2 linked regions of the Homo sapiens genome follow. The protein of the gene in region 1 purifies or fractionates together with the protein of each later gene. This does not show direct contact. Each region holds a gene or a part of one and is shown on either strand. Other genes may lie near its edges.

Evidence for each region.
Region 2: the proteins of WASHC5 (region 1) and FKBP15 purify together in Homo sapiens (affinity purification with western blotting; 2 studies listed by BioGRID, with this or other methods). This does not show direct contact.

What each region holds. Positions count from the first base shown.
Region 1 is NC_000008.11:125,018,114-125,034,925, reverse strand, and holds the end of WASHC5 (WASH complex subunit 5), read left to right. Parts: intron 1-2,531; coding exon 2,532-2,685; intron 2,686-6,218; coding exon 6,219-6,306; intron 6,307-10,252; coding exon 10,253-10,309; 3' UTR 10,310-10,666; downstream 10,667-16,812. Other genes in the region: SQLE (squalene monooxygenase), read right to left, coding at 12,981-13,173, 14,055-14,142, 16,199-16,295, 16,725-16,812. UniProt on the Homo sapiens protein: Acts as a component of the WASH core complex that functions as a nucleation-promoting factor (NPF) at the surface of endosomes, where it recruits and activates the Arp2/3 complex to induce actin polymerization, playing a key role in the fission of tubules that serve as transport intermediates during endosome sorting.
Region 2 is NC_000009.12:113,201,902-113,218,713, reverse strand, and holds part of FKBP15 (FK506-binding protein 15), read left to right. Parts: intron 1-7,121; coding exon 7,122-7,237; intron 7,238-11,417; coding exon 11,418-11,502; intron 11,503-12,135; coding exon 12,136-12,205; intron 12,206-15,678; coding exon 15,679-15,753; intron 15,754-16,084; coding exon 16,085-16,183; intron 16,184-16,812. UniProt on the Homo sapiens protein: May be involved in the cytoskeletal organization of neuronal growth cones. Seems to be inactive as a PPIase. Involved in the transport of early endosomes at the level of transition between microfilament-based and microtubule-based movement.

The sequences.
Region 1 (16,812 bases):
AAATGCATACCTGGCTTGGTCTGTGTTTGAAGAAAGAAGCTTCGTGGTGTAGTGCTAGTTGTAGAAGTGTTTGTTGTTAACATCACTCTTGCTTTCCACCTGGAAAGGATTATTTCTCCATACTGAGTCCTGTTAGGATTCTTCCTCCATGTTCTGAATTGCCAAGGCCTAGGTTAGGTTATTCAGGATCACTTGTTTAGGCTTCTCTGGTTTGGGGAAGATTTTCCGGTCTTCACAAGAAGTCAAATATGGGACCTGAGGGTCTGTCTAACCAGTTAACTTGATAAGAAACTGCCAACCCTTTGTCCAAAGTGGTTGTGCCAGTTACACTCTCACCAAGAGTGAGTATATGTGTAGTCCACATCCTCGCCATTATTTGGTGGCGTCAGTCATTTTCATTTTAGCCATTCTTTTTTTTTTTCTGAAACAGAGTCTCACTCTGTCACCCAGGCTGAAGTGCAGTAGCGTAATCTCGGCCCACTGCAACCTCCACCTCCTGGGTTCAAGCAGTTCTGCCTCGGCCACCTGAGTAGCTGGAATTACAGGCTACAAGCATGCATCACCATGCTCGGGTAATTTTTGTATTGTTAGTAGAGACAGGTTTCACCATGTTGGCCAGGCTGGTCTCGAACTCCTGACCTCAAGTGTTCCACCCACCTTGGCCTCCCAAAGTGCCAAGATTACAGGCATAAGCCACTGAACCCAGCCCATTTTAGCCATCCTGATGGGTATCTATGGTATCTTGTTGCAGCTTTAATTTGCCTCCCTGATGATTAATGATTTTGAGCACTTTTTCATGTGCTTATTGGCCATTCCTTATATCCTTCTCTGCGAAGTGCCTGTTCTAGTCTTATGCTCGTTTTTAAATTTTTTTTTTATTACAGAGTTGTAGTAGTTATGTATATATTATGGATACAAGTTCCTTATTAGATATGTTTTGAGAATATTGTGACTTATCTATGTATTTTTTTACTGGTAACTTTAATGAGCAGAAGTTTTTACTGTTGATGGTGTCCAGTTTATCCATTTTTTTCCTTTATAATTATTCTTTTTTGTCTTGTCTAAGAAATCTCTGCCAGGCCAGGCACAGTGGCCCATGCCTGTAATCCCAGCATTTTGGGAGGCTGAGACGAGAGGATCACCTGAGGTCAGGAGTTTGAGACCAGCCTGGTCAACATAGTGAAACCCGTCTCTACTAAAAACACAAAAATTAGCCAGACGTGGTGGCACACGCCTGTAATCCCAGCTACTTGGGAGGCTGAGGCAGGAGAATCGCTAGAACCTGGGAGGCAGAGGTTGCAGTGAGCCGAGATTGTGCCACTGCCCTCCAGCCTAGGTGACATAGTGAGCTCCGTCTCAAAAAAAAAAAAAAGAAATCTCTGCCTTCTTCAAGGTCACAAAGATATCTTCGATATTTTTTCTTACAGTTCTGTAGTCTTTGCTTTTACATTGAGGCCAGTGGTTCATCTCTAATTGTTTTTTGTGTACAGTATGAGATAGGGGTCAAGGTTTGTCGTTCCCCCATAAGACTATCCAGTTTCAGTACCATTTGTTAAAAGATTTATCTTTTTTTATTATTTGGTATATTTGTGACTATTCAATTACTCATAGAAGGGTGGGACTATCTCTAGACTCTATTCTGTTCCATTGATCTATTTGTCTGTTCTTATGCCATAGTGTCTTAATTATTGAAACTGTATAGAGAGCTTGAAATCAGGCAACCTAAACCTTCCCAACACTGTTCTTTTTCAACATTGTGTTTCTTCTGGAAGACCCTAATCTCTGTCTCTGGTTTCCCATGCAGCCACCCAGGCAGAGGTCAGGGTCTCCACATTTTGGCAGAAATCTTTAGTGTAGAGCCAGGTGCAGTGGTACACACCTATAGTCCCAGCTTGAGCCCTGGAATTCAAGGCTATAATGTGCTGTGATTGCACCTGCGAATAGCCACTGCACTCCAGCCTGGGCAACATAGCAAGACCCCATCTCCAATTTTTAAAAAATCGTTAGTGTAAAGGCCAGCTTTGATACTCATTCACTTCATAAATATCCTTCTTCCACTCTCTTGATTTCTGCAGATTCTTTATGTATATATATTACTCAACATTTGTTTAAAGATACCCTAAAAGTATTTTATCCAGCTTTTCACTTAAGATAGTAGTTCAGGGTATCTAGTATGTCATGCTGCCGTTAACAGAAGTCAGTTGTAGTGATTTTTTTTCTCATTTACATTTATCTGTATCTTTAAAAATTGCTACAATAATATATGTTAATTGAGTAATTCAAAAGAACCAGTAATGATAATTACAAAATTTAGTAACCGTTTTATTGGTTTTGAATCCTTCAGACCCCTGGAATGCCCTACCAATCCTGTGGCTAATTCAAAATATGGCCCAGAATTGTCATTCCCTCCAAAATATCATCTGCCAGCGAGAATATGGGCCCCAAACATTTTGACCTTCACAGCGTTGGTATTTAATGAATGTTGCTGAAGGCAAGTACTTCATATGGTGTTGCAACTTGTTCCCTTGCAGGAATGGTCTGCCGAAAACCGACCGACCCGGTTGATTGGCCACCACTTGTCCTGGGACTGCTCACTCTGCTGAAGCAGTTCCATTCCCGGTACACCGAGCAGTTCCTGGCGCTGATTGGCCAGTTTATCTGCTCCACGGTGGAGCAGTGTACAAGGTACAGAAGACCAACCAGGACTACGTGGGACTTCTTGTCACAAAACCTAACTTAAACCTCACATTACCAAATTCCTCTTATCGCCCTAATAGAGATGGGAAATGGTTGCTCACCCTTCTCTGTAAAGCAAGTCAGGGCATACCTCCTTGTTTAGAGCAATTACAGGTGTGTCCATCCTTAGTCACCCTGCCAGGGGAACTCCATCCGGTCTACTCACATTGATTTTCCAGGAGTGACTCAGGACCATGAATAGTAACTACCATGGGGAAGAAAGTGCAGCCCTGTTCCTCTGCACTCTTGGATGCAGCTCTTCAATCTCAGCGAGCCCCTGCACTCCTGCTGGGCCACTGCCAAGAGATGATTCCACTCACTTCAGTGGGAGTCAGAGAACATATCAGTGTGTCAAAGCCTGGGCAGTGTCTGCATGTAGAGAAGCAAATTTCACAAGAGTTGCTATTTGATACAATGCTTATAAAACTTTAATTCCTGCCAGTTCTTTTCCCCTGCCCCTAAATGTGGCTTTTCTGGGATAAAGAAAAAAAAGTTATTTCCATGAGATGCTGGGTCCTGTGCCTCCTTCTCTGCTATCCTAAAGGGTCAGCCTGGCTACATAACCTTTGCTGTCATGTTTGCTTGGTCATTTTTGCCACTATAATGTAAAAAACGAATCAAAGCGGCTGGGCACAGTGGCTCAAGCCTGTAATCCCAACACTTTGGGTAGATTACTTGAGGTCAGGAGTTCAGGACCAGCCTGGCCAACATGGTGAAACCCCATCTCTACTAAAAAAACACAAAAATTAACCACATGTAGTGGTGGCCACCTGTAATCCCAGCTACTCAGGAGGCTGAGGCAGGAGGATTGCTTGAACCCAGGAGGCCTCAGAGGTGCAGTGAGCTGAGATCATGCCACTGCACTCCAGCCTGGGTGACAGAGCGAGACTCCATCTCAAAAAAAATAAAACGAACCAAAGTGATCTTCTAAGTCCACACAAAATACTACTAAGTCCTAAAACTGGAAATGATTTTCGAGGTCATTTAATTGACCTCCCACTAAGTGCATGAATGAGCTCTAGGACATCCTTGACAGGTAGTCATGCAGCCACTGCTGGAACACTCTCACCGAGGGGGCTTGTGCTACCTCTCCAGGCAGCACAGTCCACTGGCTAAGTCTTGTTCTCATTAGAAAGTTCCTGATTGTGATTATTAGAACCTGTGTCTCTGGATGTTTCACTCGCTGAGCTTTTTCCTACCTTTTGAAATCATACAGAATAATGCAGTCTCCCTCCTTTGCAACATCACTTCCGATTTTGTATGCCATCTGTTGTCTTAGGTCTTCTCAATGTTTAGATAAGCCCCTTCCACCTGTTCCCGATGTCTTGCAGTTTAGAGGCTGCTCACCATAGTGAGTGACTTTTTCTGGGTGTTCCAGTCTGTTTTTGACCATCTTAAAATGTGGCTTCCCAAACTTGTATTGAGATTCCAAGCACAGCCCTCCCCTTGGCACAGAGGAGTATTACACGTCTTCATTCTGGGCCCTCTGTGGACAGTACAGCAGCTACAATTGCAGTGATGAGTCCTTTTTTTTTTTTTTTTTTTTTTTTTTATGAGAAAGAGTCGCTCTGTCGCCCAGGTTGGAGTGCAGTGGCGTGATCTCGGCTTTGCAGTGATGGGTTTCTTGACATCCAGTGCATACCAGTGGCTCCTACTGATTTTGCATTCTTTCTAAACCCCAATGTCGTTATTTCCCGTGAGCTGCAGTCAGGCCAGCTCCTCCTCCTCTTAGTTAATGAATCGAACAACAAACACTGGTGTTTTCCTGGGATAGATGTTAAGACTTGCTTCAGAAACAAGATTTTTTAACAATTGAAAAATAGAGGAGAACTCAAAGTCTCAAAAATGAAATTGTAACAATCACGAAGTGAGGTCAGTTGGCAAGGAAAGCAGTAGGCTCATAAAAACCCAGCGCCTCTGGCCCAGGCTCCCAGAGAGGAGGGGAAGGACTCCAGTTCAGGTGGTGCGGAGGTGATTAGCAAGTAACCTCCACACAACTGGCTGTCCCAATTGTAGCTCCCTAGCTGTCAACTTGGACAGGTTCTTCTTCCTCTCTTTCTTTTTCACTAATGGCAGTAAAGGCTTAAGTGTGGCTCTAGTCCAGCATGTTATTGGCAACCCTGAGGGTGGTGATCAGGCTACAGGAGACCAGCTGTAAGTCAGGCTTTCTGATTCAGCAGAGCAAAGGAATCTAAGGAACCTGTGACGCATGGGAATTCCTTCCTTTCTCTTGCTCCAAGCAGAGCAAATATAGCCCTGGTCACAGATTGAAAGATTGAGAGCAGGGAGAATTTTTCCAGGTACAGTCATTCTTAACCCATTCAAAAAGCAAAGTTCATCAGCGAAATTAACCAGTAATGTATTAATAGTACTAAAAGTTATTTGTTAATCAGAAAATGCCAATTGGTACAGGAATTGGAAATCGTTTTAACACCTAAAAACTCCTTTTGATGTAAACAAGAAGGAACGTTAGCTCTATAAGGAGCCTGGCATGTACTTTGCTGTATTCCCAGCTCTGGAACAGTGCTTGGCACTGTAGTTGCTGAATGAATGAATACATGAGTAAAATCCCATATGAAAAATTGCTAGATGCTGTATTTATTTGATACCGTCAAATATGCAGTACATGCCAAGCACATTTCCAGATGCTGGAGAAACAAAGATGAACATATGACCTAGGCCCTCGAGGAGTTTATACTCCTGATGGGAACCCAGCACACCATTGAAAAATTAAGAGGCTTGGAGAATGCTGCTAACTATTATGACAGCCCAGGAGAATCAGGGAGGATTCCACAGGAGAAGTACCCAAGCTGAGACTCGAACAATGTCTAGAAGTTTACTTTCAAATCAGTGTGCAGGCCAGGTGCGGTGGCTCACGCCTGTAATCCCAACACTTTGGGAGGCCAGGGCGGGTGGATCACCTGAGGTCAGGAGTTCAAGACCAGCCTGGCCAACATGGTGAAACCCCGTCTCTACTAAAAATACAAAAAATTAGCCAGGCATGCTGGCGTGCATCTGTAATCCCAGCCAGTCGGGAGGCTGAGGCTGGAGAATCACTTGAACCCGGGAGGCGGAGGTTGCAGTGAGCCGAGATCATACCACTGCACTCCAGCCTGGCTACAAGAGTGAAAAGTCTGTCGCAAAAAAAAAAAAAAAAAAGTGTGCAGGGATGGGAAAGTATGGGACCTGCTAGGTATTGAATCATGTAAACAGAGGGAGATGAGTCTGGATAGATAGCAGGGATCGTGTTGTAAACGCCCATGGAAACCGTATAGAGAAGCTCACATTTACCCTATGGGGTGGGCTCCTGAAAATACATGAGCAAGGTAACAACTTGACAGGAATTAAGAGCATGCTCAATGTTTTTGTTCATCTTTGACTTCATTAGGTAATCTGTTGGTAATTTAGTCTTTCAGGATTCTGACCAAAAGGGCTTATGATGTGCAAAGCAGTTAATTGATCTAAACTGTTCTCTATCACAGCCAGAAGATACCTGAAATTCCTGCAGATGTTGTGGGTGCCCTTCTGTTCCTGGAGGATTATGTTCGGTACACAAAGCTACCCAGGAGGGTAAGTGATAGATAGTAAAGAACAATATTAATAGTTGTAAAAAGATGCTAATAATAGTGGCCCTGGATTCATCAGGAGTGAAGCCCAATAGGTCGTTCACAGTAGATGCCTCTGCGCCTCTCGCCACTGCTCTACCCCCAGCTCTGAAATGTCCTTGCCTTTTCCACCATGGGAATTGCCTTGCAGAGTTTAACACAATGCCCCTCCCGCCTCTTCTTCCTCTCCACCATGTACTCCTGTCAGCAACTCATCTGGTTCAGGAGTTAAGTGAAATAGGCAAGCCAGGAGGGATTCCTTAAGTGGCCAGAGGAAAGAAATAATCATGGTGGTTTGTTCTTTCTCTCTCCACTGACCTGGTTCCCACAGCAAGCACAGTTAAGTTCATGCCACAACTAAATGTATATATGAGCACTGTTTCCAAAAATGGCAGACTACTTTTTACCTGCCAAGACATTCTTTCCTATCCCTTTCTCATTAGTAATTCCACTTTGTTAAATTTTAGCTCAAAGTGGAGAGCTTGATACTGAAAAATACAACTTTCAGCAGATACTGAAAATCATTTGATTTTTAGAAATTAGTAGGTTAGGAATCAAAGATACTTTCTTACAACATGAGCCAAAGATGAACTTTTAAAATTAACTAGCAATGTCAGTACATAATAGTGAAATGTTAGTGGCATTCCCATTAAAGCCAGGACTGTCACAGTGTCATGACAACTATACAGACTCTTGCAACTACTTTTGTTATACAGGTGCAAGACAATAAGAAATGAAATGAAAATAAAATGCATATTGGAAAGAAGACAAACTCTGTATTATTTGAGATTAATTGTCTTCCTTTTTTATTCTATTTTTCCATAAGTTATTGGGATACAGGTGGTATTTGGTTACATGAGTAAGTTCTTTAGTGGTGATTTGTGAGATTTTGATGCACCCATCACCTGAGCAGTATACACTGCACCATATTTGTAGTATTTTATCCTCACTCCCCTCCCATTCTTCCCTCCAAGTCCCCAAAGTCCATTGTATAATTCTTATGCCTTTGCGTCCTCATAGCTTAGCTCCCACATATCAGTAGGAATATACGATGTTTGGTTTTCCATTCCTGAGTTACTTCACTTGTAAGAATAATCTCCAGTCTCATCCGGGTCACTGCAAATGCTGTTAATTCATTCTTTTTTATGGCTGCGTAGCATTCCATCGTATGTATATATCACAATTTCTTTATCCACTCATTGATTGATGGACACTTAGGTTGGTTCCACGATTTTGCAATTGTAAATTGTACTGCTGTAAACATGCATGTGCAGGTATCTTTTTTGAATAATGACTTCTTTTCCTCTGGGTAGTTACCCAGTAGTGGGATTGCTGCATAACTGTCTTCCTTGAATACCCAATAGAATCATGTGAAAAACTATCAAAATAATACAGAGATCAGAAAACAAGCTGGCTACAGAATAAATGTATGAAATACATCAATCGATTAAAAAATACAGTGTGAAAAAGGACCTATTCACAGAAATAACAAGGCAATGATATAGCTAAGAATAACCTCTATAAGAAATATGAAAGAACACTTTATTAAAAAACTATAAAAATTTTAAATATAAAATTTGAAAGTCCATGTTTCTGAATGAGGGTCCTCGAATATTACAGAGATAATAGTTCTATCTAGTTTATAGGTTTACTGCAGTTACAATCAAGATTTCAGGTACTTTTTTAACTTCAAAGAATATATTTTTTAAAATGTCATAGGACTTAGGCAAGTCCTTTTTTAAAAAAAAGATATTAAAATATTATATCAAGTATTAAAACACTGTAAAACTGTAGAAACCAAAATAGGGTGCTACTGGTATGCAACTAAATAGAAGGAACAATGAGCAAGAATATGTAGCCTAGAAACACACCCTGTGCATACAATGGTACATAAGGAAAAGTAGCATCTCAAATTAAGAGAGAAAGGGAATATTAGTCAATAGATGTAAGTTCACACAGTTAAAAAAATAGCAACTTAGTCCCCTTTACATCTCCTATGTTATCAAAATTAATTACAGATAAAGGGTTAGTGTGAAATATGAAACAAATAAATTAGCCGAAATTTTAGGCAAATATGTATCAGCTCTCAGAAATTCCTAAGTATAAAACCAAAAGAAGAAACTATAAAGAAAAAGATTTAGAGACTTGATTTTTTATAAATGCTGAATGTAATTAATTCTGTGTCAGTGTCTCAGTTAAAAAACAAAAGACAAAAGAGGAAATACCAACAAAGGACTAGTTTCTTGATTTATAGTGTGCTCTTCAAATCTTCAAGTTCAGTATGAAAAAGATGTCCAAGCCAATAGAAAAAAAGCAGGGGAAGGGCAAAGGAAATTAAGAGGCAGTTTTCAAGAAAATAGAAATGACAAACCTTCGGATTCAAGGGACAAAAATCCAAATACGAAAATTACTGTTTCCACTTATCAGGTTGGTGAAAGGTAAAATGTTGGGCCCCCATTATTCGGAAGCATTTGGAGAAATGGGACTTGTAAGTGCTATTAATTGGAATGTAAATTGACAGCCTTTGAGGAGGGCAATTTAGCTTTATCTATTTTAAAAAAACATTTGTAATATACTTACCCTGATCCCAGCAATTCCACTGCTAGGAATTTTACCTGCTGGATATATGTGCAAAGGTTTACCAAGATATGTGCCCAAGGATGTTCATAATATAAGATTTAGCAGAGGTAGAGAAGGACACAATATTATGTGATCCTAATTTTGATTGTGTGTGTGTGTGTGTGTGTGTGTCTGTCTGCATATGTAAGTAAACTGGAAAAATTCATTACAAAAGTTGCCAGTTTTTATTTTCTTTAAGGGATTAAGATTAAAAAAATATTTTTTTAAATTTTAAGCTCTGGGCTACACGTGCAGAATGTGCAGGTTTGTTACATAGGTATTATACATGTGCCATCTGTCGCCAGGCTGGAGTGCAGTAGTGAGATCTGGGCTCACTACAGCCTCCGCCTCCCTGGTTCAAGTGATTCTCCTGCCTCAGCCTCCTGAGTAGCTGTGATTACAGATGCGTACCACCACGCCCTGCTGATTTTTTTATTTTCAGTAGAGATGGGATTTCTCCATGTTAGTCAGGCTGGTCTTGAACTCCTGACCTCATGATCCACCCACCTCAGCCTCCCAAAGTGCCAGGATTACAGGCGTGAGCCACCACGCCCAGCCTAGGTTTTAAGCCTCACATGTATTAGGTATTTATACTAATGCTCTCCCTCCCCTTGCCCTCCACCCACTGTAAAAATAATTTTTATACTCTTCTGCATTTGCTAAATTTCCTCTCATTAGCAGGTTATACCTTTATGATCAGAAAAAAAATTAAACACTGCTTCTAAAAAATACTCATCTCCAGCACTTGGAGATCACCTACCTCTACATTCTACCCAACTGAGCCCAATTTAGTCTTCTCAGGGCTTTGCCCAAGAACAGTTCAGGAATGCATGCCTCTGAAGGCCTTCCTGCTCTTCCCCTTCTGGCCTTGGTATCTCATTCTCATTCCTGCCCTCCCCTACCTCTCCAACCCCATCACTTGCCAGCCATCCTGTTCTTCCTTGTTGGTCATCAGTTAATGAAGTGTATTAGGTGACCTGAGTACTTGTCAGTACTTCCCAGAGGCAAGAACATTCCTCGCAGATCAAGGTACCTTTAAGAGCCAAGAAGCTCAGATTTGGAGGCGGGAGAGCTGTACTGCATCCCCTCAAATGTTAGCAGTGCCAAGAAATGAGACGCTAGTCTAGGGGGCACCACAAGCAGAAAGGGGCTGTTTCAAGGAGTCGTCCGCCCATGGGAGTCTCCTCTTCTATTATTCACCTTGCTCCAAGGATATCTTTTCTTTTACGTATGAAAATTTTGTAATTGTTCAACTATAACACCATGAATAATTTAATTCTTTAATTTTTCAGGTTGCTGAAGCACATGTGCCTAATTTCATTTTTGATGAGTTCAGAACAGTGCTGTAACTGTTTTTCCTACTTCTTCAATGGAAGGATTGTCCTTAGATCTTCCCACCATCACAAATGAATTTGAAGATGAAAAGAAACTCAGTTGCTCATACAACTGCATTTTTTCTGTCTATTATGGGAAACATCAGACGTTCTGAGTAAGATATATCTCATGGCATTAGTTAATATAACTGATATTGTTTAAATCATGGTATTACATGCAATTTATATCAGATAAAAGCAGAACACATTTTTGTACTGCCTCTCTTAAATGCTGAATGTAACTGTTATGTATAAATCCATTTAGTTTTATGTTCTAAAGAACTATTTGTGCAACTCCAGATTTTCAGTAAAATAGTATTACTAGTACCCAAAGTCGTCTCGCTTATGATTCAAAAACTGTGTATTCACCCTGTAAAAAACCCTGTTTGGAATAAGAGATGACTCTGCTAGGTATAATAGCTCACCCCCAACAAGCTGGCAGGCACGTGGTGATAGCCAGACTAGTAGCAAATGTAGTGGCCACACAATCTGTGTCATGTGCCATTGAAGTTTCTTGGTGTCTCATCATCCTCTTCCAATCCCACATGCCCTAGGGGGTCCACAGCATTCCTTCTGTAGGACTCCTTAACAAAGCTGCTCCTTCCGGTATCTTCCTCAGCAACCTGAGTCCTGCCCCAAGTCCCCACAACCGTATCATTATCCAGAGTCCTTTTTGGTAATAGCCTTCCCATAAGCTTAACTCCCTCGAAATCCTAAATCATTTCTGCATGAAAATTACCCTGAAAAGGAAGCTGCCACTATTAGTCTGTTCTCACACTGCTATGAAGAAATATGGGTGGGGACACAGAGCCACACCATATCACTGCCATCCTACTGTGGCAACTTGGGTATCAACAACTTGGATGAGAGCAAGAAAGATGTTTCCACCCTAAATCTCTATGGTTATGTCCTTCTCTGGAGAGGAAGGAACAAACCAAACCAAACCCAGAAGCCAAAATCTGTTTGACAGTCATTTTGCTAGTGGTGGGGGAAGATGTACTGATTTGCAATCAGGAGGGTAAGTTTGAGTCCTGGTTCTGCCACAAGCTACACCTTGTCCCAAGCCAGCCTACTGGCATCATCTGTAAAATTAGGACTAAAGGATTTCTCAGGTTCCTTCGGTTTTCTCATTTTATTTCTTTTGTCAGAAGGCCTCAAATTCTGATATTGAAGGGAAGAAAAGACTTTACAGGCTTTGATTATTTCACTATCATAGTAGAAAGGACTTTAAAGGAGTCTCAGTGGCGAACAAGGGTAACCTCGAATCCTGGCCATGAGGGCACCGAGGCCAGGGCAGAATTTTAAGAGAACTGTTGCTTGGTACGTAGGGAGCTTGGAAGTCTCACCCCCTGCAAAGACGGTGTGTGGGAACATCTATATCTCAACGATAGCGTGTTATTTTTCATTTGTAATCTTGTTAACAATAACCACATGAAGTGAGATCTTTGTTCTCGAAAAAGAAAGCTAACTAACTGCTAAGAAGGCCAGATCTGGGAAAGTGAGTTTTTAACCAGAAAATAGAAGTTTAGGGTCAGTTAGATGGGAATCTTACGAAACCAAGCAAATGGGTCCACCATATGCTCTACTAAAACAAGGCAGTGATGTTTGAAACTGATTTTGCTAGTGATTTGGCCAGTGAAGAATTTTTTTCAACTGAAAAAACTTAAAAATTGAAATTTTTATTGTAAAAGCTTTGTAAGTTATATTTTAGCCCTGTTAGAATCTCAAGTAGTAACTTCATTTGCCAGGTTATATTTTACTGCTCTTTCAGAAGTAACAATTTACTTTCATGGTATTTGGAGATTTACTGAACTTTTATGATGATACCCTTTGAACATCCATAGTCTCTTCAAATTTACTATAGATAAACTCAGTAAATCCTAACGGATTTTAAGGTATTATGCCGGGTATTACAAGTGCTTACTTGTTCACTCACTGTTTCTTGATGTCATCCTGGGCTGCCTTATAAATGTTGCTATACAGTGGAACTTATAAAGCCCTTGATTGCCTTTCCTGTCAGAATCTGATATTTTCAGAGAACTCAGCAAAGAACCTTTCGGTTCAAATCTGAGTCACAGCCCCAAAATAAAATAAATAAATAAATAAGTAATTTTTTTTAAAGAAAATAACCTTATCAAATTGCTTCACTGGATAGATGAGGAAATCAAGGTCAAGACATTAAGGCAACTTCCCCAGTTATTTAATAGAACAGGTTTCCCTCTGCACTTTTCATCCCACTTTGGTTTTCTTTTTCATTATCATGAAGCTATGTAAACGAGCCCACAACAAGAAACAAAAAGACACGAAAGTTCATTCTTCATTTTATTTGCATGTCCCAACAACTCATCTCAAATACTAAATTCAAAAGAAAAACTGTAGTTCTCCTCAGCATTAGCACTAATTTATGGTAACAATCATTTCTTTTAAATGTCTAACTTATTTAACCCCTTCATTTTAAATTGCAAATTAAAGCATGTATTTACATATTTATATACAAAAAACTTCAAAAACAAATTAATCCAAATCTTGGTCCAAGAGTTTCCACTTTATAAGTGGTATGGTACTATGCTATATATATCCTCTTCCAAAAGTCTCTTAGGACTTGGTAAGTTCCAAATATTCATTCACAAATGGTTCCCCTTTAAGCTTAATGAACCATATACTTCATTTCTGAGTAAATTAGAGGAAATATTACAGAACACGCTTTGTACAATACAGCACCACTACTGAGAAGGGCTCGAGGTTTTGTAATCCAAGGTTCTGACTTAAAGCAAAAATACACGGCATAGATTGCAACAGCAAAGAAGTGTCCAATTAAAACTAGAGGGTTAGGAGACAATCTGTAATAGAAAAAAATACATATTGGTAAGACTCAGAAACTAAAATTTACTCCAAAGGTTCCAATTACATATAATCTACGAAGCTCAACAAACATCCTACTTTTTTTTACCCAAGCATCATAATTCTGTATGAAACATTCTACATTTTAGAGGACGTCACAAATATGTCTGCATGTTAAGTTTGATGGCAGGAGCAAACCCCCCACCCCCCTTTTTTTTTTTTTAAGAAAAAATACTTAGAATATATCCCTTTCAGAAAAGCTAGTAACTCCTGTAACTCTAGTTTACATAAGTCATATATTTTTAGCTGTTTGTTTACTCATCCTGAGACACCACGCTGAAATATCTAGATGGCCTGGTCTGTTGGGATGTAGGGCTTTTAAAAATATCAGTATTAACATTCAGATTATAGATTATGAGAAATGACTCAAAGGATCACTTTGCAAATGAGAAATAACTCGATAGATTTCACTTTGTAGACTTTCCAAGAATAGTTCCACATATGTCTGTACGCTCAAAACTAATACTGGGTTGTATAAGTCCCCGTACTTCAATGAAACTAATTCTTAAATTAAAATTTCTCAATTATTCCTGGCTCCCACAGACCAGAACATATGGATAAATCCATAGGCAAAAAACAAGCTTCTATTTTAATCAAGGGTTATAGCTTCCTCTACCACCACCTTTAACTGCTGTTCCCTAGAAAGAAAACAGTACTAAATATTGCGTTTCTTCATTTCTTTGGGCCACCTTCTCATTGGGATACTAACAGATAATAAAATATCAAAATGTGTAAGGAAGAAAGATTTGCAGTAATTCATCAACTGAACAGTCCTAAGAAAATCTGGCAGGTTTGTATCCTCTGTGCCATCACAACTTACACAGAAAGCAGCCCAACAGGACCCGCAACACATTCGCCACCAAGTTTGAAATAAAGAAAACAGGCTTTTCTTAGTTGATGCAGGGAATCTAAAATAAAATTGTAAAATAATCAAATATGTGTACACACTTATGTAGGATGCTAATGATATATCAGAAAAAATGAGAAATAACAAACGCTACATCTTGCAGATAATTTTTAAATATCTAGTCCTAGAATTTCAACAACCAGGATTTCTTCTGAATTCCATAATCAGCATTATGGAGAGTAATATAAATATGAATAAACTTTTTTCTGTTAGTAAATAACTACTAATATTTAGGTCTTGGAAGAGTTGTTTAAAAGGTACTTCCTTGATTTTGCTGTTAATTCATTAAGTGATGCAAAATACTTTGGAAGCTCTTTTTAACACAATTCTAGAAACCAAATTCCCAGTCTCTAAGATGTCCAACCAGTATCTCTAACTAAGCAGTAAATTATCAAGTGAAGAGAGCTGTGAGTAGCGATAAATAATAATTCCTTATATCTATAAAGTTTTTAATACCTTTCAAAGTAACTCATAAAACCCTCACAATGTAGTGTAATCAATTGATAACCTTTTTAACCATTTAGAATCAATGTTCTGTTCAGGTATGCCCAGATTTTTCTTTACAACAGATTTTAAAAAGTAAAGGATGCAACAGGTAAACTTTTGCTCCAATAAAGGTCTTTCCTCCTCCAATCTTGTAACTTTTAAAAAATGTTGTTTTGTTGGTAGATTTAAATTCATAATGTTAAGAACTCAAGAAGTTAGAAAAGCTTAGAAAGAAGAGCTCAGAAAAACTCTTAAATTTAGTTCTTTTTATTTGCCCAAAACTCTAAACTTAGTTCTTTTTATTTGCCCAAAACTCTAAACTTAGTTACTTTCATTTGCCCAACCAGCCATTTTAACTTCTATGCCAATTTAGCAAGAGAAATTTGTTTGGAAAAATCATAACCAGTGAGATTGGTGGGGTTTTTGTTTTGTTTTTTTTCCTTAGGAAGAGTTAATGGTTATAGAGGCTACAGAAAGCATTTTTATTGTATCATCTTTTGTAATTATAACCACAGCACTTATCACTAGGGCCTCAGCCAGATCATACAAATAGCTATGTTGCAAATATACTAGAGTAGTGGCATATGAGTCAGTATTTATTCTTGAAAACTGAAAAGCCTAGTTTCATTAACCTACTATTAAACTGATGTGTACACTGCTGTGGTGAGGAGGTGGCACAGTTGCCTTTTCTCCTCCATTTCTTTTAATTTTTTGTTTGTTTGTTTTAGAAGATGAAGTCTCACTCTGTTGCCCAGGCTGAGTGCAGTGGCACTTCATATAGCTCACTATATATAGCTCACTGTAGTGAGCTATATAGTCCCAAATAGCTGGGACTACAGGCACACGCCACCATGCCTTGCTGATCTTTTAATTTTTTGTAGAGATGGGGTCTTGCTTTATTGTCCAGGTTGGTGTGAAACTCCTGGCTTTAAGCGATCCTCCTGCCTTGGCCTCCTGAAGTGCTGGGATTACAGGCATGAATCATTTCGCCTGGCCTCTTTTCCTCCATTTCTAACACTGCTTCTGCTAAGTTGTGTTTTCTCTAATATATACATTGACCGTGACCTCTGTATAATATGGAAACAGTAACAAAAGCACCAAAATAATCCAAATAAGTAAAGGGTGAATGCATTGTTACTTGTGCTTTTCAACAGGGACAAGATTAACAGCTTGTATTCATTTTATAAAATACTACTTTAAAAAGAAATTGAAACTAGTGTTAGGAAGAAAAAGACTACATTGCCTTTTAATACATGGCCAAAAACACCTTCCATCACAGTCTTGTGTGTGTGAGGACAAGCATGATCTAGTCTGCACCAGAGGAATTCAAAATAATGAATATGTTACTGAGGCATTGCTATTAATGTTGTCTAAGGAAATTCCACTACCTTCCAAACTAAAACTAAAACTACAACTATTGCTCAAAATGGAATTTTAAAAAACTACCAACTTGGGAGTTAGCAAACTCAGGTAACATTTTTATTTCTGGACAAATCACTAACTTGTTTATTCCTTTCCTACGCTAAAAATCTGCAATTGAGTAATATTCACTAAAAAGTGTCTACACTTACCATCTGTGGCAGAAAATAATTCATAAAGAGCCTGAGCAAGGATATTCACGACAAAGGAATGAGATGTTTTTCTTGCCCAGTAAAATGATTTTTTGGCCTAAAAAAGAAATAGCTCATTTATTATATGGTAAGGATAAAAAAGCACAAACTGATGTTTATAATCCCCTCAAACTGATACTTATCCTTCTAAGGACTATCTGCAAGTAATATTGCCTTATGTTTATCATTTACAAAAAAAATAAAAAATCACCTTCAGAGCAATGGGTTATATGACACTGAAGCTAAATTTACAACCACTATGAGCTAAGTGGCCCATAGCAATCAAGTGTTACATAATATTCAAATTTAGAAATTCTCTAAGATTCACAGGTTGCAAGTCAGGTTCTTTAAGCCTAAGCAAGATGCCTAAGAGCTATTATAAAGCATCAGGTTCCTTAGTACAGATCTCCCCATCAGAGCCCCACTGCTCTTAACCCCCAGAAATAAATCCATTTTGAGACATTTTTGTCAAAATAATTGATCTTACCTCGAAAATAGCTGCATCATCATAAAGGTCAGGGATACCCTTTAGCAGTTTTCTCCATAGTTTTATATCTTTAAAAGCAACAGTCATT
Region 2 (16,812 bases), on another chromosome or scaffold:
ACCTAGATAAACTTTGAGACCTTTGCCAGTTCTGTAGTTTTAATGTTAATGCTAATACCAGTTTATGGTTGCAGGTCAACTTCCGTGTCAATCAAGCATGCTTTCACCCTTGCAGGGGTATCTGAGTTGAACCACATTTTGAGATAATAGGATGTGTTCACAAGTATATAAATACGTACTCTGTGCTTACTTAATGCCATACACTGTTCTAAGAAATACATAGACATTATTGTATTTATTCCTCCCTTCTACTCTATGAAATAATTTTACCTACTATGCCCATTTTACAAATGAGAAATGTATATATATATATATATATATATATATATATATATAATTGTATTTACTCCTCTCTATGAGGTACTATTAATTATTATATCCGTTTTACAAATGGGAAAGGCTCAGAGAGGTAAATTGCCCAAGATCATGCAGCTAGAAAGTAATAGAGCCTGGATCTGAAATCAGGTAGGCAGATTCTACCAGACCTGCCTATGTGCTATTGTTGTTATTATTGAAATGGATGTTTGATGTCAGTTTGTTTAAAAAAGTATTAATACTTTACCAACAAAAAGAATCTCTGTTTATTAAAATACATTGATACAGTATAAATGCATGTGTTTTTGTTTTTGATGAGAAAGAAAATATAAAACTGAGGTGAGGTGAGGTCCTTGGCGACTAAATGCATTGTCTAACATTTTTTTTTAATGTAGTTAATTCTGTCATGACTTTTCCTATGAATTATAAATATAGATTCAAGTCCAGAGTTAGCAAGCTCATTCTTGCCAACATAGGGAGATTGTGTACATTTGAGAGTTCCTTAGTAGTGGAAAAATCTAAAAATTTATTTATTTTTGTTTATTTATTTATTTTTTTGAGACAGGGTTTTTCTCTGTTGCCCAGGCTGGAGTGCACTGGTGCAGTCATGGCTCACTGCAGCTTCGAACTCCTGGGCTCAAGCAATCCACTTGCCTCAGTCTCCCAAGTAGCTGGGATTACAGGCGCATGCCACCACGCCTGGCTAATTTTTAATTTTTTGTAAAGATGGGTTCTTGCTATATTGCTCAGGCTAGTCTTGAACTCCTGGCCTCAAGCAGTCCTCCTGTCTCAGCCTCTGAGAGTGAGCCACCATGCCCTGCTAAAAATTTACAAGTAACTTATCTCCCAAGTTGATGCAGAGTCCATTAAAGATATTAATAGAAAATGGGACTGTGCGTGGTGGTTCACGCTTGTAATCCCAGCACTTTGGGAGGCCAACGCAGGTGGATCATGAGGTCAGGAGTTCGAGACCAGCCTGGCCAACACAATGAAACCCCGTCTCTACAAACATACAAAAATTAACTGGGTGTGGTGGCAGGTGCCTATAATCCCAGCTACGTGGGAGGCTGAGGTAGGAGAATCGCTTGAATCTGGGAGGCAGAGGTTGCAGTGAGCCAAGGTCGTGCCACTGCACTCCAGCCTGGGTGACAAAGCAAGACTCCGTCTCATTAAAAAAAAAAAAAAAAAAAAAAAAAACTGGGCGTGGTGGCTCACACCTGTAATCCCAGCACTTTGGGAGGCTGAGGCAGGTGGATCACCTGAGGTCAGGAGTGCAAGACCAGCCTGGCCAATGTGGTGAAACCCCATCTCTACTAAAAATACAAAAATTAGCCAGGCCTGGTGGCGGGCACCTGTAATCTCGGGTGCTCAGGAGGCTGAGGCAGGAGAATCGCTTGAAGCCTGGAGGTGGAGGTTGCACAGCCGAGATCCTGCCATTGCACTCCAGCCTGGACGCCAAGAGCAAAATTCCGTCTCAAAAAAAAAAAAAAAAAAGAAAATGGAATTAATCTGAAAACTAATTAGGTTGACCTGGCTTTTGGATCGACTTTGTAGTCTTCAGTTGGCTGGTCTTTAGAACATCTATGGAAACACAGTTCACTTATGACACTCTTGTCTTTCCTTTTAAAAAGGCTATACCTGCAAAATTAAAACAGCAAGCCCAATACTCATGGTTTACTGAAGCTAACAAGGACATTCATTTCTTATCAGTAATCTGTGCATAAGCTATGTTATCTTAACTAGGTGCTAAGCTTTGTACATTTTTCACTGTGTTAAAGATAGTGAAACCCAACTCTTCCAGAATCTTATTCTTTAGGCAATTTGCCCGAATTTTCCTGCCTGAAAGGACAAATCTTGCTGTCTTCTAAATTCCATAAGCATTTGGTGATGTCTTTTTAGGCCAGCGCTGCTCTCACTCAAGCATTGCGTTTACAATCTCATTTAAACCTCTTAGTCCTTTACAGTAGGCATTTCTGGCCTATTTACAGGAAACTTAAACTTACATTAGACTACTTTGAGAAAAGAAGGTAATAGTTTCAAGTCATATAAAATTTATTTTGTAAAATGCTAGTGCATATTTCTCTATACATAAAACTTGTTTTAAAAAAACCTGAAAAGCCAAAATAACTTGTTGGGAAGTTTCAATGTTTACTTCACCTAAACTAAGGATGCCTTTGGAGAAGAAGTGCTCAGAGCCAGACTAGACTTTGAATTCATTTACTGAGCCTGTTACATACCAGACACTGGGCATACCCCCTTTTTTTTTTTTTCGGTTTGCTTTATTGTGCCTTGCAGATTTTTTTTTTTTTTTTTTTCACAAAATAAAGGTTGTGTCCAACCCCGTGTTGAGTGAGTCTATTGGCATCATTTTGCCAACAGCAAAATTCCTCCCTTCGTGTCTCCGTGTCACATTTTGGTAATTCTCTTAATATTCAAAAATATTCTCTTGGTCAGTTGCAATGGCTCACACCTATAATCCCAGCATTTTGGGAGGCTGAGGCGGGTGGATCACTTGAGGCCAGGAGTTTGCAACCAGCCTGGCCAACATAGCAAAACCCTGTTTCTACTAAAAAATACAGAAATTAGCAGGGCATGGTGATGCACGCCTGTAATCCTAGCAATTTGGGAGGCTGAGGCATGTGAATCGCTTGAACCCAGGAGGCGGAGGTTGTAGTGAGCCGAGATTGGGCCACTGCACTCCTGCCTGGGCGACAGAGTGAGACTGCATCTCAAAAAAAAAAAAAAAAAAAAAAATATATATATATATATATATACACACACACACACACACACGCACACATATATATTCACACATATGTATATATGTTTATATATACACACACATATATCCTCTGAATATTTCAAACTTTTTCAATGGTATTATATCTGTTATGGTGTGATCTTTGGTGTTACTGTAATTGTTGTTGCCACAAACCACGCTCACATAAAATAGTGAACTTAATTGATAAATGTTGTGTATGTTCTGACTGCTCCACTGACTGGCAGTTCTCTATTTTTTTTTTTTTTATCTCTTCTTGAGCCTACCTATACTCCATGACTCAGCAATATTGGCATTAGGCCAATTAATAACCCTACAACGACCTCAAGTGTTTAAGTGAAAGGAAGAGTTGCACATCTCTTGCTTTAAAAAAAGTAGAAATGATTAAGCTTTGTGAGGAAGGCGTGTAAACAAAGATAGGCCAAAAGCTAGGCCTCTTGTGCCAGTTAGCCATATTGTGAATGCAAAGGAAACATTCTTAAAGGAAATTAAAAGTGCTACTCCAGTGAACACACAAATGATGAGAAAGCAAAACAGCCTTATTGCTGACATGGAGAAAGTTTAAGGGAATCTGATAGAACATCAAACCAGTCACAAATTTCCTTAAACCAAAGCCTAATTCAGAGCAAGGCCCTAACTCTTTTCAATTCTGTGAAGGCTGAGCGAGGTGAGGATGCTGCAGAAGAAAAGCTGGAAGTGAGCAGAGGTTGGTTCATGAGGTTGAAGGAAAGAAGCCGTCTTCATAGCATGAAAGTGCTAGATGAAGGAGCAAGTGATTGCAAGCTGCAGCAAGTTACTAGAAGTTCTAGCAAAGAGAACTGGTGATGGTGGCTACACCAAACAACGGATTTTCAGTGTAGACAAAACAGCTTTCTATTGGAAGAAGATCTAGGACTTTCATGGCTAGAGAGGAGAAGTCAATGCTTGGCTTCAAAACTTCAAAGGACAGGCTTAACTCTTATTAGGGGATAATGCAGCTGGTGACTTAAAGTTGAAGCCGTTGCTCATGTACCATTCCAAAAATCCTAGGGCCCTTAGGCATTATGCTAAATTTACTCTGCCTGTGCTCTGCAAATGGAACAAAGCCTGGATGACAGCACATCTGTTTATAGCATAGTTTACTGAATATTTTAAATGCACTGTTGAGACCCACTGTTCAGAAAAAAAAAGCCTTCTTTCAAATTATTACTGCCCATTGACAGTGTACTTGGTCACTCACAAACTCTGATGGAGATGTATAAGATTAATGTTGTTTTCATGCCTGCTAACACAACATCCATTCTGCACCTCAGATCAGGTCTTACCATTTAAGAAATACATTTCATGGCTAAGCACAGTGGCTCACACCTGTAATCCCAGAACTTTGGGAGGCCAAGGTGGGTGGATCACTTGAGCCCAGGAGTTCAAGAGCAGCCTGGGCAACATGGTGAAACCCTGTCTCTACAAAAAATATAGAAATTAGCCAGGTTTCTTGGTGCATGCCTGTAGTCCCAGCTTCTTGAGAGGCTGAGGTGGGAGAATCCCTAGAGTGTGGTGGTGCATGCCTGTAGTCTCAGCTATTTGGGAGGCTGAGGTGGGAGGATTGGTTGAGCCCTGGAGGCAAAAGCTGCAGTGAGCCATGAACGCCCCACTGCACTCTAGCCTGGTGACAGATTGAGACCCTGTCTCTAAAAAAAAATTGTTTTAAAGAGTTAACACAGCAAGCCTGAGACTATTATTCCTAAAAAGCCCTGCTTACAAGGTTGGCTCTTGGCTGATATCTTAGTCTGTTTTCTGTTGCTTATAACAGAATACCTAAAGTGTGATAAAGAAAAGGAATTTATTTTTTACAGTTATGGAGGCTGAGAAGTTCAAGGTCAGAAGGGCTGCATGTGGTGAAGGTCTTCTTCTTGGTAGGAACTCTCTGCAGGGTCCTGAGATGGCATGGGGCATCACATGGCAAGCATACTAGCTCAGATCTTTCTTCCTCTTCTTATAACGCCACCAGTCTCATTCCCATGACATTTATGATAATCTAGTAATCCTTTTTTTTTTTTTGGTTCGGGGGAGACAGGGTCTTGCTCTGTCACCTAGGCTGTAATGCAGTGACATGATCATAGCTCACTGTAGTCTCAAACTCCTGGGCTCAGTTGAGCCTCCTGCCTCAGCCTCTCAAGCCGCTAGGACTCCAGGCGTTTACCACCAAGACTGGATAATTTTTTTTTTTTTTGGAGACGGAGTTTCGCTCTCGTTGCCTAGGCTGGAGTGCAGTGGCGTGATCTCAGCTCACTGCAACATCTGCCTCCTTGGTTCAGGCGATTCTCCTGCCTCAGCCTCCCGAGTAGCTGGGATTACAGGTGCGTGCCACCACGCCCGGCTAATTTTTGTACTTTTAGTAGAGATAGGGTTTCACCATGTTGGTCAGGCTGGTCTCGAACGCCTGACCTCAAGTGATCCTCCCATCTCAGCCTCCCAAAATGCTGGGATTACGGGTATGAGCCACTGTGCCCAGCCGACCTGTGCACTTTTTATTTTTGCTGATTTTTCTGTATATTTTTTTGTAATAGATCTTAGCCATGAGTACCACTATATGCTGAGACCATTGAGTCCTTCTCTAGAATCCTTGAACCTGGCAGTGGTCTTGGAGCACAAAAGGAAGAACAGGTTTTGCTGGGGCAGTGGGCATTGGAGGATATGAGTTCTGGTTTGGACATGTTACATTTGTATTGCCTGTGGGATATCTATGTTTTCTGGCACTCAAGAGCAAGTTCTGGGCTGGGAATGCAGATTTGAGCATCACCAGCATTTGGATAGCATTTGATACCAAGGTAAATGAGTACAGAGAGACAGTATGAAACCCTACCAAGGGAGAGAAAGTATGAAGCCCTGGAGACATGGACATTTAAAGATTGGGCAAATGAAGAAGAAGAGCCCAAGGGGTTAAAGAGAAGCCAGAGAAATGGGGCAAAACAAGCCAGGGATTGCATTAGTATTTATTGATATCTTATTTGGACCTGTTCCTTCCACAACCCCTGCAGAAGTCAAGAGAAGAATTTGAAGAAGAACAAGTTAATTGACAGTATAAAAAGGTGGTATGAGGTGAAATAAGGACTGGTAAACTGGGGTTAGTAGCAAAGAAGTTGTTGGTGATCGGATGGGCCTGGTGGCTCACACCTGTAATCCCAGCACTTTGGGAGGCCGAGGTGGGTGGATCACTTGAGGTCAGGAGTTCGAGACCAGCCTGGCCAGCATGGTGAAACCCCGTCTCTACTAAAAATACAAAAATTAGCCGGGTGTGGTGACACGCGCCTGTAGTCCCAGCTACTTGGGAGGCTGAGGCAGGAGAATCACTTGAACCTGGGAAGCGGAGGTTGCAGTGAGCCGGGATCACACCACTGCACTCCAGCCTGGGCAACAGAGTGAAACTCCATCTAAAAAAAAACAAAAACAAACAAAAAAATTTTTAGTGATTTTAGCAAGATCAGTTTCAGTGGAATGGTGGGGGATAAGATTTCTTGCAAGGGATGATGAAAGAATGGTTCTGTTAGATGAAAGGATGGCAGGGACCATGTTTGATGGGTAAGTTTGTATCATAGCTTCATTTCAATTGAATAAACTAGTAAAAAGCAGGAGGGGGAGTAGTCAGTAAGGGTGACTAGAAACTGTGATTTGCTAAAAGCAAGAATTTACAGTTTGAAGATACCATAGAGAGCACCTGAACTAGTCACTTCAGTTTATAGGTGGAAAAACTGAGGTCCAGAAAAAAGAAATGCCTTGACCAAGGTCCTGGGGATAAACAGGGTCAACTGATGATGTTCAAATCACATACACAATCTTGATTTCAAAGACACTTTGCTGTGTCCAATATTTTTATTTATTTTTTTTTTTAATTTTTAAATCAGCTTTCCTAGCTTGAAGTGTTTCTAGTATTGAATGGTGGGATGTAGTCAAGGAGGTATTTGTTCAAGGTTGGAGATGAGCAGCTTTTATAATAATTCCAGGTTTGGGATATATCAGTGAAATTTCATTTTTCATTTTCTACTAACAGTGCCAGATTGGCCTCACTTTTTGGACTGGATCAGGCAGCTGCTGGCCATGGAAATGAATTTTTCCAGTACACAGCCCCAAAACAGCCTAAGAAAGGCCAGGGAACGGCAGCAACAGGTAAGTTAAGAGTGTATTAGCCGAGCGAGGTGGCTAATGCCTGTAATCCCAGCACTTTGGGAGGCCGAGGCCGGTGGATCACCTGAGGTCAGGAGTTTGAGACCAGCCTGGCCAAGATGGCAAAACCCCATCTCTAAAAAAAATACAAAAATTAGCCAGGTGTGGTGGCGTGTGCCTGTAATCCCAGCTACTAGGGGGGCTGAGGCCGGAGGATCTCTTGAACCCAGGAGGCAGAGGTTGCAGTGAGCCACTGTACTCCAGCCTGGGCAACAGAGCGAGACTCTGTCTCAAAAAACAAAACAAAACTGAAACAAAATAAAAACAAGAGTGTATTAGGGTTCTCTAGAGGGACAGAGCTAATAGAATATACGTATGTGTGAAAGTGAGTTTATTGAGGAGAACTGACTCACACGATCACAAGGTAAAGCCCCATGATAGGCTGTCTGCAAGTTGAAGAACAAGGAAGCCAGTAGTGGATCAGTCCGAGTCTCAAAACCTCAAAAGTAGGGAAGCCGACAGTGCAGCCTTCAGTCTGTGGCTGCAGGCCTGAGAGCCTCTGGCCAACCGCTAGTGTAAGTCCAAGAGTCCAAAAGCCAAAGAACTTGGAGTCTGATGTTCGACGGCAGAAAGCATCCAGCGCAGGAGAAAGATGAAAGTCGGAAGACTCAGCAAGTCAGCCCCTTCCACCTTCTTCTGCCTGCCTTATACTAGCCACGCTGGCAGTTGATTAGATAGTGCCCAACAAGATTGAGGGTGGGTTTGCCTTTCCCAGTCCACTGACTCAGATGTTAATCTCCTTTGGCAACACCCTCACAGACACACCCAGGAACAATACTTTGTGTACTTCAATCCAATCAAGTTGACACTAAATATTAGCCATCACTTCGGGAGGCCGAGGTGAGCAGATCACGAGGTCAAGAGATCGAGACGATTCTGGCCAACATGGTGAAACCCTGTCTCTACTAAAAGTACAAAAATTAGCTGGGCATGGTGGCGCTTGCCTGTAGTCCCAGCTACTTGGGAGGCTGAGGCAGGAGAATTGCTTGAAGCCGGGAGGCGGAGGTTGCAGTGAGCCAAGATCACGCCACTGCACTCCAGCCTGGCAACAGAGCAAGACTCCGTCTCAAAAAAAAAAAAAAAAAAAGCCATCACAACTGGCACTAGGATTGTGCCTTAACAGGTTAGATGGAAGGGTTAGCAGCCTTCCAAAAGTGACATGCCAGGTTGTGTATCCTTGACCAGTCTGGCTAAGCTCACCCCCAGTGGTGAGTGCTTCTCTAAGATCTGGGATCCTGATTTCTAGCAGCTAGATAGCGTGCGCTTTGTTGGGAACTGATGGAGAGGTTCGAAAGCAAGGCCTTCTGCCCCATATGGACACCGCTCTCCCAAACTCTGTCCAAGGCACTCTAAGTAGGCACTGTCCAGTGTTTTGGTGAGAAGGAAGACCTACTTTTCACTTCTTTTATCTGGACAGGTTAGCTGTAGGCTCCATCCTGAGCCTCCACCCCTCTAGGGCCCCACTCTAAGTCACCTCATTAGCATTGTCAAAAGATACAGTTATAACACATGGAGTTTTAAGATCTTAATTGGCTTTTATTTGAGATTCTAGAATTGGGCAACACTTCATTCTATAAAATGGAATGTTGTGATGAGCTGAGCAGAGGAGGTTGGCTTTATAGGCAGAAAAGTGCTGAAGAAAGCAGAAACAGAACAAAAAACAATTGGTCATTTCAAAGTTACTTTTGTTGTGTAGGTTAAAGCAGAGAAGACTTCCTTCCTTATCATGCTGGCTAAAATTGGATTATACAAAAGATGTTCCTACCACTCTTATCACTCAGGAAATTACAAGGGATTTGGGAGCAGTGTGTCAGGAACCAAGGACAAAGACCAAACATATTTCATATTATACCACAGCCTATAGGCCCTTTACAGAAAATGTTTGCCGATCCCTGCTTTAAATATTACCTATTACTTTAGGCAGTTTTGCTGTAGGTGCTTCTCTTATTCTCCAACTCATAACCTGGCCAGATTTCTAGTAGGCTATGCTTTTATATTTCCTGTGGCACATCTCTTCATCAGCAGTGTGCTTCAGAGTTAAAGTGGTTGAGTTAATGGGAGAAAAAGAAACAACCTTAGTTCCCACCCAATGAAAACACTTGGTTTTTTATTTTTATTTTTTATTGTACTTAATTTTAGAAACAGAGTCTTGCTTTGCTGCCCAGGCTGGAATGTAGTGGCTATTCACAGGTGCCATCACAGTGCACTACGGCCTTGAACTCCTGGCCACTGCACCTGGCTAACTTGATTATTTAAATCAGAAGACAGCAACTATGAGTTTATTACACTTTTAGCAGGGAGCTATAGAAGCAAGATTGCCTATACAGTTTTCTTTAGGCATTTACAAATAAATAAAGTAGCAATACAGAAGTCCCTCTCTGTTCAAGGGAATTTTTTTTTTTTTTTTTTTTTTGAGATGGAGTCTCGCTCTGTCACCCAGGCTGGAGTGCGGTGGCATGATCTCAGCTCATTGCAATCTCTGCCTCCTGTGTTTCAAGTGATTCTCATGCCTCAGCCTCCCAAGTACCTGGGACTCCAGGTGCACCCACCATACCTGGCTAATTTTTGTATTTTTAGTAGAGATGGGGTTTCACCATGTTGGCCAGACTGGTCTCAAACTCCTGACCACAAGTGATCTGCCCACCTCTGTTTCCCAAAGTGCTGGGATTACCTGTGTGAGCCATCTCGTCCAGCCTGAGGAACAGTTGGACAGGATGTAACCAAACCTTAAATTTTTTATACTCCTTTACCCCATAATTCCATTTTAAGGAATTTATTATAAGAAGATAACTGGAAGTACACACAAAAATGTTGCATTTTAATTTATGTGTTTCTGTATTTTCTAAGTTTCCTACAATGCACTTGTACTCTATAATCAGAAAAAAAAGTGTTAATACAGAAAAAATCAAACGAGTTCTTTCAAAATATAAGTTCTTGCATGTCATGTCCGCATCAGTATTATCTCACTACTCTTCCATCACATTCATATAGTGAGTATAAATGTGATTTACTCTTAACATGGTATTTGAAAATGTTAGTGTTACTCTGTAGTCCCTTTTTTTTGTTGTTTTTTTGTTTTTTTTGAGACGGAGTCTCATTCCATCACCCAGGCTGGGGTGCAGTGGTGCGATCTCAGCTCACTGCAACCTCTGCCTCCCAGGCTCAAGCGATTCTTCCTCTTCAGCCTCATGAGTAGCTGGGACTACAGGTGCGCGCCACCACCCCCAGCTAATTTTTGTATTTTTAGTAGAGATAAGGTTTCACCATATTGGCCAGGCTGGTCTCGAACTCCTCGTGATCCACCTGCCTCGGCCTGCCAAAGTGCTGGGATTACAGGCACGAGCCACTGCGCCCAGCCTACTCTGTAGTACTTTGTGAAGTTAATTAATGGGTGTGATTTAAATATCTTACTGAATTTCCCACCCTAGAAGACAGGGAAGGGGAAATAACTTTATTTTCATATATTATAGCTGTCAAAATACTGGAAGGAGAAAATAAAATAGATGGACTATCACTTTTTAGACAGTACTCCTTGTCTAGCCAAAGACTTATTTGGGGTGTGTGGGTTGGGAGTTGGAGTCATGGGTTTCAGACCTAGGCACTATCATGGTATAATTGTGTGAGGCACTTGGGTGATTAGAACCTCAGTTTCTTCACCCCCAGACTAGATCATAGGGCTGCTTTGTGGATCAAATAAGGATAATCATAAAAGCATTACAACACTGACTGTAAATTATAAAGATCAATTTTGAAGCTAGTTCAGTGGTTAAAAATTAGTTTAAGGCCAGGTACAGTAGCTCACGCCTGTAATTCCAGCACTTTGGGAGGCTGAGGCAGGTGGATCACGAGGTCAGGAGTTCAAGACCAGCCTGTCCAACATGGTGAAACCCCATCTCTACTAAAAATACAAAAATTAGCCGGATGTGGTGGCACGCAACTGGAATCCCAGCTACTCATGAGGCTGAGGCAGGAGAATGGCTTGAACCCGGGAGGTGGAGGTTGCAGTGAACCGAGATCACGCCACTGCACTCCAGCCTGGGTGACAAAGTGAAACTCCGTCTTTAAAAAAAATTAGTTTAAAGCAAGAAGTGAATGACAACTTTGTTTTCTTGTTCATCTTCAGGAAATCAGGCAACACCAAAAACAGCACCAGCCACCATGAGCACTCCCACAATACTGGTCGCAACAGCAGTCCATGCATATCGATAGTAAGTCGCTGAGAAGGAACACCCTCTGAAGTTTGGTGGAAGGGCGTGCAGTTAAGCTACTTTTTCTCGAAAAACCTCTGTTTGTTGCAAAACGGTTATTTAGCCCTTCCACGGACAAAATATCAGTAGAACTTTTAACATCTGAATTGGAGATTTCTGTGGTAAAACTTGAAAAGCCATTATCTTGTCTACTGTCTTTAGGGAGTGCTTGTACCCTCAACAGCTGTCAAATGCTCAAAGAAAGCCTCTCCACTGAGATAGCATGAATGATAGATATTTATATTTAAAGAGTAAGGGAATAGTATATGAGCTTTAAATTATAAACTGCTGGGCCGGGTGCGGTGGCGCACTCCTGTAATCCCAGCACTTTGGGAGGCCGAGGCAGAAGAATTGCTTGAACCTGGGAGGCAGAGGTTGCAGTGAGCCAAGATCATGTCACTGCACTCCAGCCTGGTGACAGAGCGAGACTCTGTCTCAAAAAAAAAAAAAAAAAAAAAAATTTTAAACCGCTCACCTGTGTCCCTGCCTAGAGGCTGAATGACTGTTGTTCCCACTTCTGTATGACAGAAAAGAAAGCTGGTTCTGCAGAATTTAGGGAAGTATTAATACTTGTTGTTTCTCTTCCTTTTATAGCACAAATGGTCAATATGTAAAGCAGGGCAAATTTGGTGCTGCAGTTCTGGGGAACCACACAGCCAGAGAGGTGAGAGTGCTCCCACATCTCATGTATATTCAGATGTCCCAAATAATACCAATGAGCTGGCTTTTATCTGGCTTGCCCGATGTCTTGTTTATCAGAAGATAAGGATGATTATTTGTATTGAATGTTAATTTATAACATCAAGCATATAGTAAATGATCACATTTTGCTTACTATTGTGCGTTAAAACAAATCCAACCATTCAAAATTGTTAAATTTGACCTTTGTGATATGATCCTAGCTTAAGAATTTGGGCATTTTTTTGTTTGTTTGTTGTTCAATTGTGGGGTGCGTGTGTACACACACATACACAAATACACACATATATATACACATACATATGTATATATAAGATAAAATTTGCCATTTAACCATTTTTAAGTGCATAATCCAGTGCCATTAATTGCATTCACAGTATTGATTGAGCAACCATCACTACTATCCATTTCCCAAACAGAAAGTGTAACCATTAAGCAATAACTCTACTTCTTCCTTTTTCCCAGCTGCCCATAAGGTCAAATCTCTTCTTGTTTTTATGAATTTGCCCTTTCTAGGTACCTAATATAGGTGGAATCATAACAGTATTTGTCTTTGGTGACTGATGTATTTCATTTCACATAATGTCCTGAAGGTTCACCCATGTTATAGCATGCATCAGTATTTCATTCCTTTTCATGGCTGAAAAATATTTCATTGTAGGTATATACCACATTTTGTTTATTCATTCATCAGTTGATGGACACTGGGTTGTTTATACCTTTTGTCTATTGGGAATAGACAAAAAAAGTATGTATCGTGAAGACTGACATAAAAGTATATGGTCAAGTTCCTATTTTGGCTGTATACTAAGAGTGGAAATTGCTGACTCGTATGGTAATTTTATGTACCACTTTTTGAGAAACTGCCAAACTGTTTTCCACAGCAGCCACACCATTTCACATTCCCACAAGCAATGTATGAGGGTTTCAGTTTCTTCACATCCTTGCCAGCATTTTGTTATTATTATTATTTTTAAATTCTTGCCATTCTAGTAGGTGTGGAATGGTACTTTATTGTGGTTTTAATGTGCATTTTACCCAATGTCTAATGTTGAGTATCTTTTCATTTGCTTATTGACCATTCATGTATTTTCTGTGGAGAGATGTCTACTCAAGCCCTTTGTCCATTTTAAAAATTGGATTGTTTGTCTTTTTGTTGTGGAGTTGTAGTAGTCTTTTAATATATTCTGAGTATTAAACCCTTATTTGCAGATATTTTATAGATTATCTTTTCACTTTCTTGATAATGTCCTTTGATGTACAAAAGTTTTTAATTTTGGTGAAGTCCATATTATCAAGTTTTTTCTTTTGTTACTTGTACTTTTGGTGTTTTATCTGAGAATCCATTACCAAAACCAAGGTCATGACGATTCACCTCTACGTTTTCTTCTAAGAGTTTTATGATTTTATCCCTCATGTTGTTTTATATACAAGTTGGGCCTACGGTAAAAAATTACTTGACATGTGAAGAGGTGGGAAAATGTAACTAATAATCAAGGGAACAAATAAACTAGGAGCAGACTCACAAATAACCTAGATATTGCAGTTAACATACAAGGCACTTAAAACAACTAGGAATAATATCTTAAAGAAAATAGAGGAAAAGTACAAAAGGGATGAAAAGATGGAGAATTTAAAAAGTTAGAATCTATAAGAATAATCACATGGCAGTCTAGATTTGAAAAATACAATTTCTGAAACTAAGAACATATTGGATGGGTTTAACAGAGTCAGAATACAGCAGGAGACAGAATTAGTGACTTCGAAGGCAGTAACATAGAAAATATTCAGACTGAAGCACAGAGAGAAGAAATAATAGAAAGAGACCAGGGCAAAGATTGATGTGGGACATGGTCTAACGTCCATGTAATTGGAATCCAAAGACAGTAGAATTATATCTTTAAAGTACTGAAAGGAAAACAAAACCCTGCCTATTACAGAATTCTATAGCAACAAAAATATCCTTCAAAAATGAAGGCAAAATAAATTTTCAGCCAAACAAAAGTGAGAGAATTCATTGTAGTAGATTTGCACTACAAGGAACATTAAAGGACATTCTTTAAGTTGAGGGAAACGAATGTCTGTGTCTTTCAAAAGACATGGAGAGGCTGGGCGCGGTGGCTTACGCCTGCAATCCCAGCACTTTGGAAAGCCAAGGCTGAGGTCGGGAGTTCAAGGCCAGCCTGACCAACATGGAGAAACCCCGTGTCTACTAAAAATACAAAAAAATTAGCCAGGTGTGATGGCACATGCCTGTAATCCCAGCTACTTGGGAGGCTGGGGCAGGAGAATTGCTTGAACCTGGGAGGTGGAGGTTGCGGTAAGCTGAGATCATGCCATTGCACTCCAGCCTGGGCAACAAGAGTGAAACGTCATCTCAAAAAAAAATGACGTGGAGAATGTTCATAGAAGTATCATTCATAATAGCCTCTAGCTGGAAACAACTCAAATGTTCATAAACAGGAGAATGAATGAAGAGTTTATGGTATATTCACATAATAGAATACTACATGACAATAAAAGAGAATAAAGTCCTGGAACATGAAGTATCAAGGCTTACTCTTATAGATACGGTGAGTGAAAGAAGCAAGACAAAAGAGTATACTCTGTATAATCCTATTTATACAAATTTAAGAATAGCAAAATTGTCTGGGTGCGGTGGCTCACACCTGTAATCTCAGCACTTTGGGAGGCCAAGGTGGGCGGATCACCTGAGGTCAGGAGTTCAAGACCAGCCTGGCCAACATGGTGAAACCTGGTCTCTACTAAAAATACAAAATTAGTAGGGTGTGGTGGCGTGCACCTGTAGTCTCAGCTGCTCGGGAGCCTGAGGCAGGAGAATTGCTTGAACCCGGGAGGCAGTGGTTGCAGTGAGCCGAGATTGCGCCACTGCACTCCAGCCTGGGCGACAGAGAGACTCTGTCTCAAAAAGAAAAAAAAAAAAAGCAAAATTAATCAGCGACAGAAGTCAGAATATTGGTTATCTCAGGGTGGGGATTATTGACTAGGAAGGGCATGAGGGAGCTTCCTGTGGTGTGGGAAATGCTCTGCTATTTTTTAAATCTGGTTGATGGTCACGTGGGCACATATATGTATAATGAACATGTATTTTATGTTTTTCATCAATTTAAAAACAATTTGTATTTTCTTTTACACAACCAGCCACTCTTAGTCACCCCTTGTATAAATGAAAACACCAACAAAATGAAGACATTGCCAATTACAGTTAAACAGTAAGACCAAAATGAGAAGAGATTAATGTGGATAGTGAGAAGATAAAATTTAAAGTTGAAGCCTTAAAGGATGAATAGATTTTGAGTTTAGTATGAAGCACAACCTTTGATACTTATTGCTGATTTTATATTGCTGATTTTATATTGCCTTTTAACTTCTGCTGTCTCTCTTTTTTTTTTTCTATCTGTCGTTGCTTGTCTACAGTATAGGATTCTTCTTTATATCAGTCAACAACAGCCAGTTACGGTTGCTAGGATTCATGTGAACTTTGAGCTAATGGTAAGACTTCATCATATTGGAATCATTAGCTCCTTCGGGATAGGTTTACAGGAGAGACTGGTCTGATTGTACCTAATAGAAATTAGATCCACTGGTTCAGCCCTGGGTGTCCTTGTGAGTATCTAACAGAACCTTTCAGAAAGGTCTCTTGGCTCCTTCTAGGAATGTGGACTGAAGGGTGAATCGTAGAGGGTGAGAGGGAAGAAGAAAGATCTCTGATAGTTCCCTTTGGGTCCACCTGAGTCAAGACCCTACTCTATGAGCTTAGGCCGTCATGTTTATCTGGTATAATACTGCTTGTGGATGAATTTAACATTTCTCCTTTCTCCAGGTTCGGCCCAATAACTATAGCACCTTTTATGATGACCAGAGACAGAACTGGTCCATCATGTTTGAGTCGGAAAAGGCTGCTGTGGAGTTCAATAAGCAGGTGATAACATCTTACTCTCCCTGTGAAAAGCCAAAATACTTGTTTGGATTTCCCTTAATTTTAGGGAAACATATAGAAAACCCATAATCTGCTGTGTTTTGTTAGTGACTAGCATAAAAAACCCACTAAATTTGCCACTTCGGCCTATTGTATGATTTCAGGAAAATAATAGGAATACTTACTGAAACTGCTTGACAATTTAGCCTTTTTCTTTTTTAACAGAGAAAGACTAAATGTAATCTTATTATATTAAAAAATTTTCTACTACATAAATTATCTTAAGGAATAAATAAAACTATCTTTAAAAAATAGTGTTTTCAAAGAATGTTTTAGGCTGGGTGTGGTGGTTCATGCCACGCTTGTAATCCCAGCATTTTGGGAGGCCGAGGCAGGTGGATCACTTGAGCCTAGGAGTTCAAGATCAGCCTGGGCAACATAGTGAAACCCCATCTGTACAAGAAAAGAAAGAAAGAGAGAGAAAGAGATAGAGAGAGCAAGAAAGAGAGTTAAGTTACTACATACTCATTGTAGAAAATTTAGAAAAGCATTAAAAAAAATCACTCATAGTCTTACTACTCAAAGTAACCACTATTAACATATTTCCTTTTTTCTATGCATAATATACATAA